Linked DNA regions of Homo sapiens: region 2 is linked to region 1. Evidence: fine-mapped expression QTL. A gene starts in region 1. The other region holds a variant in brackets. All regions are shown on one strand. Distances are between the middles of the regions. Region 1 holds the start of SULT1E1 (sulfotransferase family 1E member 1). Region 2 overlaps SULT1B1 (sulfotransferase family 1B member 1).

What was found. PIP is the estimated chance that this variant, and not a neighbour inherited with it, causes the effect.
Region 2: its variant is the best candidate, but not a certain one, in a credible set for the expression of SULT1E1 in lung (TOPMed, PIP 0.59).

The regions. Positions count from the first base shown.
Region 1 is chr4:69,857,717-69,862,127 of GRCh38, forward strand. SULT1E1 (sulfotransferase family 1E member 1) reads right to left here and starts at 2,429. Exons shown (of 8, transcript NM_005420.3): 1 at 2,333-2,429.
Region 2 is chr4:69,748,308-69,752,718 of GRCh38, forward strand. It overlaps SULT1B1 (sulfotransferase family 1B member 1), which reads right to left. Exons shown (of 8, transcript NM_014465.4): 4 at 1,414-1,511. Among named protein-coding and RNA genes, the nearest start is that of SULT1B1, 10 kb to the right of the region's middle. The variant C/T (reference allele first, on the strand shown) is at 1,791.

The DNA.
Region 1 (4,411 bases):
TGTATATAACGGGACCCTCCTACATACCTAGCACTTCTTAGTTGTTGCACATATGGGGCAAAAACATAGTAAAGTTGCATATCAAATAGTTTTGGTACATAGAGAGTTTTTAACCTTATTAGAAAGATGTCTAACACATAAAAGAATAGGAAAGCACAAGTGATTATGAAGTAAAATGCTTAAAACTAAATAAAAATGTGGATATATTCAATTATATTTATTCCGTGATAAATAAAAACCACAGAACCTTCAATTTCTTTCAAAATTGCTGGGGCATATAAAAAGACAAAGAGGTCCAGAATTACAGTTATTTTAGCAAATTATCCAATTATGTATATGTCAAATAACAATAAAGATCATTACATTTGATTATTATTGCCGGGTATCTAAGTCAGAGATTTTTGACTTCCTGAATATGTATCATTTTTTTAAATAAACCAAATGCTTGGTGAATGTATTTAAAAGAAAAGATGAAATTAATTACACTGTAATGGTTATATCAAAGAAATGGAATCTTGAGAGTATAAAGGATTCCTCTGTGACCTTTAAAATTACTTTTTTCCCCATTCGATCAATAAGGTAGTGGATACTCCCATTGAATGACTTGGCTAAAAATGATAAGGTTAAGCAAGATGGTTATCATTTCCTAATTCATCTCCTGATCCCATGACAATCTATTTCATGTTCAAGGTTACTAACAGAATTTTTAATTAGGCATACTTTCTTTCATTAGCTTTCAAATTCCTTTAGTATCTTGTTTTTTCAACTGCCAAACTTAGCTTATTTCAAGTTTCTGACATAGCTTCCCAACACATTTTGTCTTTCCTGACATTAGCCTTTCTAGATCTTCCTCCTGTTCACATTTGCCCAAAAACCTGCCTGATAAGTTCTTCTACACACATAAATTGCCCCAGCCCTTAGGACAATCTCAACTTTTAAAAAACCTTCCTCTACATCATATCAGATGTAATGTCACCAAAAATATGAGATTTCTATTTCCAAAATGCATATTAGCCTTATCAATAAATCACTTGTTCCCCAAGCCTTCTCCTTAGTCTCAGAAAATAGATCTTTCACTAGAAGAAATGTGTATAAAATGCACCACGATTTGTCCTGCCTATTGGTTTGCTTACTCATGTGAATTACTTTCTTGGTGTTCAGCCAAGTTTATAAGAATTGGCTTATAGTCAGCTGGGAGTGGTAGATTTATCATTAAGTGGTTGGCTGACTTCCAGCTACTCCTTCATAGTCAATTTTGGTCTGAGAGGCAAAGTAGGTGGCATGTAATAAAATATCTTTTCTCATTCTATTCCTTTTGGTAAATTGTCTCATATTACAATGTATGGATTTACTTCCTATGTGATCCCCATTTTCTCAAAAGATCTATTTCAGTTAGAAATTGTCAATTTTTTATTCTGAGTATGTAGGTCAGTTGTTCAGAAATAAACATCAAAAAAGTTGTTAAAATTGTGACTTATAAATTCAATTAAACTCAGAAAGTGTTTTTCCTTCCCGCTCTCCTTCCTCTCTTTCTTCCTTTCTTTCTGCATACTCCCCTCCTGCATCTTCCAACCTGCCTTTTATCCAGCAAATACTCCCTATGTGAATGCCTACCCTTTTCCTAGGCCCTGTAGTCAGTGCTAGAATACTATGGTGGATATAGATACATAGGGTTCTCATAGTCCCTACTTTCTTAGATTTACCTGTATGAGGGCAAAGTGACTTTTGTACATGTTTCTATCCCAATCTCCAGCACTATGACACAAAGTAGATGTTCAGAAATATTTGTTAAGTTCAATTATTAGATCAAGAAGCTCTCTAGTTTCTACTAAGTAAGGATTCACAGATTTAAAAGGCAATATATGTCAATGACCTACATATTAATTATTTACCAAGGACTTTGGATTTCTGTCATATTTATCTGAAGTTTCTTACATGAAAGTAATGCCCCTATTTGCAAGACCCCTTATCACAGGAACACAAAACTAAAAGTCAATCTCTATTCTACCTCCTTCTACCCTGCTTGCTTTATTTTCTCATTGGTAAAATGGAGAACACGTCCAGCATTCAGCACTTTTAAGATAGCAATGGTACTGTAATTTTACATTAAAGCAATAAGCAACAAAATACTACATAAATGTAAAATATTATTTTTAACAACAAATTATTTTAAAAGGTTTTAAATGCTTCACATCATTAATTAACTAAAGTATCAATCAAGACTTTGGTCTTTGTATATTTTATTTTTAAGAGCTTTGTAATACATAATTTTCATTCTATATTTTATATATCTAAAATCTAAGTATTGATATTAATAATAAAAAAGTACAACCTGTTTAGTTGATCCTGTGAAAGAAATTGATCTAGTTTATATCTCTTCAAATACCAAGGCAGATCTTAAGCTGCAAAAAAAGATGAGAACCACTTCTGCATTTGGAATGTTTCTGGTGAGTTTATATCCTGAATGCCAGAGAAGGAGGTGGAGATTAATTTGGGGGCTTGGCTTCATGAAGTCCATGATGCAATAGTTAATGTAGATGTAAATGCATACCTGCAGCTGCAGTAACCACACAGAGTCATGTTCATTCATGGAGATGTAGAAATATCCTGCTGTTATTTTTTTAATTATTTGGCTCATATTCAAATTCCCAAGTCTGCCGTCAGGGGTTGGGGAAGAAGGAGGGAGAAAAGGAAAAGATGAGAAAGAAGAGGCCTGGGAAGAGAGACTGGGAAGGGAGAATCCCTTATTCACTCATTGACAAATAATAGCATGACTATGGTTAACTTTCAAAAGAATAAACTTATTGGAGTGAAGAAAGAGAAGCCAATGAGGAAAGAAATAAGACAGCAAGGACCCTCAATCAGACCTAGCTCAGTTTATTAAGACCTGCCAAAGAAGTCATTGGGTTGTATCTTAACATGTCAATTGGAAAACACCTATTTAAACTCTTTGCCTTTAACTCTTAAGCAGACCTGAAAATTTTAAAAAGCAGATGACAGCTAAAGAAAGAATGTAAACATCACTCACCTTTCGATTATTATTTTAGAAACCTGACTTCTCTCTGCTCCCAACCACAAAATAGCATACTGTGAATTTTTCAGGTAATGATAGCTACCAACACTTGGAATTTACACAAGAGAATTAGAAAAATAAATGGCCAAGGGTTTGTGGAATCCACAAATGCATTACCTTTCTTTTCATTTTTCTGCACCTACTCTGTCACTTAAGAAAATTATCCTTTGCTCCACCCCATCAACACCTCCAACCCTGTTATTTCTTATTTCTCTATTAATTACTGTTAGATTACATTTCCTTTGAGAGGCTCACTCTTACAAGACTCTATGTTTCTCTTAGTGACTTTTAAACTTTGAACTTTCTCCTAACTAGTATTTATTTTACTGTGTTGTAAATCAATGTTTGCTTGTCCAGAGTACTTTTTAAATTATAAATAGCTTGAAAACAGGGTCTTACTCTGTAATTAGCATTTTTTTCTGGCATCTAGTAGGCTAGGCATTGAATATGTATTTACTGAATAAAAGTGGCTGATTTATTCAAGAAATATAAGAAGTTAAGGGGGCTATAGTTGTTATAGAAAGCAATATCTAGCCTTATGCAAAATAAGAGGTGTTAAGTGGTTTCTGAAAAATGGGGCTTTTCATAATAGAAAATTAAGGTAGAAAAGGAGTAACCAGGGACCCAAATTTAGATTTTCATTTTACTTTGTTTTATGCAGTCTGTCATATTATTTGAGTTAAATAAAATATGTGTTGAAAAACAATCATTAAATGTACAAATTTACTCATTCATATGCCTACTATGTACCTTTAAAAATTAAGTATATATATACAAATTTAATACAGAATATAATTTTTAACCTTGCAGCATAGCTTCACTTTATTTTTTTAATGACAAGAATCTATGAAGTTTCCTTTATTGTTTAGCGAAAACATTTTTTAGTCCAAAAAAATCAGAAAATGAGCACAAGCTAATATAAACAGATTTAACCTCAATACATCTGTCTGTTTTTCACTTGTAAACAATTGGTTGCAGGGATGTCACAAATGCTCCTAACTCATGTAATTCTGGCAACCACAGATGTTCAATACACATTTATTCTTAGAAAATCTTTCTAATGTTAAGAATTCACTTACTGATAAAAACAAAACAACAGGCAAGATGGCCCTGAAACCTCATTCTTCTCCATGAGTAATGGGTACAGACTGAGTTACAAAATGTTTGAGTCAATGTCAAAAAAAAAAATGGATCTCAGATAAGGACCGGTTTTTAATGTTTATCTTGACCCTCAGAATTTGGGCAGATATCTTGAAAATATGTACATTTATTAAGTATTATAATAATGTCAAACAAAAAGAATGTGGGCAGATATGCAGACAGACATACTGCTGTTAT
Region 2 (4,411 bases), 110 kb before region 1:
ATCTGTTAAGAAGATAAAGCAATTCTGAATTCCAAACAGCAAACAGCAGAACTTCAAAATACATGAAATGAAAACCAGTAAAGCTGAAGTAAGAATAGACACATCATTAGTCATAGTTGAGCATGTTTACAATCCACTGTCAGGCAATTGATAGAACTGCTAGACATAAAACAAGAAAGGATATAAAAGAACTGAACAACATTATTGGTCAAGAGGATGTAATAAAAATATAGGGAATACATCCACCTACAAAGAAGAATATGCAACCTGCTCAAGAGCTCAGAAAACATTTAACAAGATAGAACAAGATGAACCATAAGAAATTTAAAAGAATTGCAATTATGTAGAGTATGATCTTTGACTAAAACGGAATAAAATTAGAAATCAATAACAGAATGAAAACATAAAAATCCTCAAACACTTAGAAGTTAAATCATACACTTCAAAATCTTGCAGTAAATGAGGAAATTTCAGATAAAATAAAAATGTGCATAGCATTGAGTGCAATTGAAAGCATGACATATCAAAATGTGTGGGATGCAACTAAAGCTTTACTGAGGAAACATATTTACAACACTAAAGGCTTATTTTAGAAAATAGGAAAGAAACAAATCAATAATATCAGTTCCTACTTAAAGAGATTAGAAAAAGAAGAGTAAAATAAATCCAAAGTAAGTAGATGGAGAGAAACGATAGAGAAAAAAAGCAGAAATCTATGATACTAAAAACAGATAAACAACAGAAATAATTGATAAAACGAAAAACTAGCTTTAATAATATCAATAAAATTAATATACTTAAGAGGGACAAAAAAGAAGGAGAAGGCACAAATAACTGAGATCAGGAACAAAACAGGGTATCAGAACAAATCCTGCAGCCGTTAAAATAATAATGAGTATAATATTAACAACTTTTCATTCATAAAGTCAACAACTTAGAAAAGTTTCTCACACATCACAAATTGTCAAAAGTCAGATAAGAAAAAAACACATAATCTACATAGCACTGTAGCTATTAAATAAATAGAATTTGAAGTATAAAATTTCCCCAAAAGCAGATAAGCAGGAACAAATGTTACAACAAAGAATTATACCAAATCTTCAAATAAGGACTAACGTCCTTAAGTTCAGTTTTTACAGAAGGCCTGAAGATCTAGGGAGAGTTGGAAAAAAAAGTAGTAATATTGTGCTGAGGTTTGGATTCTGTTGCTGCTCAAGTTTGGAAAACTTGAGTATATAAACTCAGACTAAAACTTAATGGCTTTTGAAGATTTACGTACAACGTGAGTGGGTATAGTATAGATTGTTGCAAGTATATGGTTAAAGAAACAAAAAATATTTTAAAAAATAAACTATGTGAGTGGGTAAAGGGATAGGGCCATACTAAAAAACTGACATGGAGTCTGGAGTATACCTTGCAATTGTTTTCCCAGAAAGATTTAGGAAGAAGATCAGTCGGTAGATGTGTTTTCACAATCCGGGGTGATGGATTCTTCTCCAATTGTTCTATACCTGAGAAATTTAGTTAAGTATAGGGAAATATTAGAGTCTCCAGAAAGGCTACGTTTCCTTATTTTGCCAACCAGTTTTTCAAGACATTTTTGAGCATTATGTAATGCAGATAAATTCTGAAACAATCACAGGCATTTCACCACATTACTAGAGTCAGTATTGTGTAACATTCAAGGATACACATTCTGAGGTTAGCCACCCTGAGTTCAAATGCTAACTCTATCACTTAAGCATTGTGAGACACTTTGAAAGTATCTCAGAATCTCTGTACTTCACTTT[C/T]TCCATCTCCAAAAGGAGAGATAATAATACCCTCTTTAATAATTTGGAGTTTTATTATACCTGTGCATTGCTATAAATGACTATTTAAATGTTTTCTTCATGCCAAAGAGGTATCAATAACTAGTAAGTCTAAAACTGGCTATCGTGTTGTATTAGGTACTGTAGCATAGATGATGTTAACTTTGTATATAATATCAGCTGTTTTATCTATATTTTCATTATATCCTATATGTGTCATATGTCTCTCCATATATGTATAGACAGTAAAAATGTGTAATCTTTAGATATTAGCTTAACTCTCTAAAGTCATACAACAAATATGTGGTAGAACTTGATTTCAAATTAAGGTCTTAAGATAGATGATACATAAACTTCTTATGCATTCTTTTATGTTCCACAGTATTACTTATATACAGTCTAAACTCTAGAATACCTGATAATCTTACATAATCTTGCCATCTCTGAATAGAAAGGCAAACCCACACAAAATTGCATCTGACTCACTCATTGAAAACAATGCTTTGTTTTAAATGTTCACAGTAATTCACTGCATATGCTAAGAAGTCATTCAGCCTATTACATTTTTCTCTTAATGTTCTATGAAACACATTTTGACTTCATAGTTTATTTACTTATTTGTTTGCTTACTGTATGTCCCCATGTCCCTTCCCCAACCTCACTCCTAAACTTAGACTAAAATGGAGATTTCATAAGAACAGAGATGTAACTTGTTTTGTTCATAAATAAATGTCCATCGAGAACCGTGACTAGCACATGGTTAATATGAAGAAGCCTATTTAATGTCAGTAGACACAGGTTTGGCATACAGGAAATTAAAAAATGTGAAAATCCAAGTTAAATTTGAATTATCAGATAAATAGGTTGTTTTTAGCAAGAATATTTCCCTTACAACATTTGGAAAGTACTTACATACTTAATAAAATGGTTATTTATCTGAATTTGAAATTAATTAATTGTCCTGTATTTTATTTGCCAATATAAATGACTGTAAACATAAATTACTATACAACTCCATCAGGGATTTTACTATGCCTCTACTGATCTAGCAGCTACAGTCACTTTACCCAGCATATAAAAATGAGAAATTGTAATCCTCCACAACTCGTTATTACTTAATGTCCATTAGATGAACTTATGTCTGTTTCTTTTAAGAAGTTTTTCTCACATCTGTTGTTCCTTGTTCCGCATTCAGCTTCCCTGAAAGATTTCTCAATTTCCCCTATTTTGCAATCATTTTGCCAAGTGAGTCTTTTAATGAACCCTTTATATCCACAAGTATGAGTGTTAGCAATGTATAAAGACAACAAAATTATCCACATTCAGGCTCTGGAGTTTGTTTGTTTGTTTATTTGAGACGGAGTCTCACTCTGTCGCCCAGGCTGGAGTGCAGTGGCGCGATCTCAGTTCACTGCAAGCTCTGCCTCCCGGGTTCACGCCATTCTCCTGCCTCAGCCTCCCGAGTAGTTGAGACTACCGGCGCCCGCCACCACGCCCGGCTAATTTTTTGTATATTTTAGTAGAGACGGGGTTTCACCGTGTTAGCCAGGACTGTCTCGATCTCCTGACCTCGTGATCCACCCGCCTCGACCTCCCAAAGTGCTGGGATTACAGGCGTGAGCCACCGCGCCCGGCCTAGAGTAGATTTAAATGCTGCAGTTTACCCTCATCTACCTGATGAACTTCAGCCATTCACTGTCAGGCAATGCTGCATATCCTCCCTCTCTATCCCCAATCCTGCCTTCCATCTGTTATCCCTGACTCCCATGTCTCTGATTACTTTGGTTCTGTCACTTTTTCATTTCATACTTTCTATGGTTCTGAAGTCTTGCCTCCCTCTTGAACTCATTTTGGTTCCTTGCCCCAGCATAATCCCTCAGTTCCAAGCTTTCCAAGGATAGGCATGTTTAAGAACATCAAGACATAACATAGTCATGTTTAAGAACATCTTATCATAACCATTTGTTTTAAGAAACTTTGCAGTTTGCATTTTAAGTCCTTGACAAATGTAAGATTAACAACTTTGTGAGAGTAACAGATTTGCTTTGTAATGCTAAGTAAAAAATGTTGAGTATTTATACTTGAATTTTAAGTTGAAATCTTGCTAAGTGTCTAATTTTCTTTTTTAAATTTGTTTAGAGACAGAGTCTTGCTCTTTCGCCCAGGCTGGAGTACAGTGGTGGAATCATTGCTAAGTTTCTATGTAGTTTTGGAACATTTAAAATGGCTAAGATTTGCTGTATTTATGAGCTTAATTTATTGGACTATAAGTACTTGGGAAGGTTTGTCTTGGTCAGATAAATTAAGTACTCAAGGAAATGAAATATATTAATATATAAATGCCACTTAAGTGTTTAAAGGAGCTTAATTAAATAAAACTTGGATTGAATATTAAACTCCTTTTGTTATATAAGTAAAATAATAATATTTATAAGCTGAACTTAATGGCTTAGGAAACAACTGGGATTTTATATTTGTAACTTTGAAAAATTGAATATATTTTTTAAACAAAACAAAACAAAAATTGGCATTTGCTGTCTGAATTCTGGCAATGACATAGAAGGACTGACATCTTGCCAGTTGATCCGTCTCTGCCTACGGAA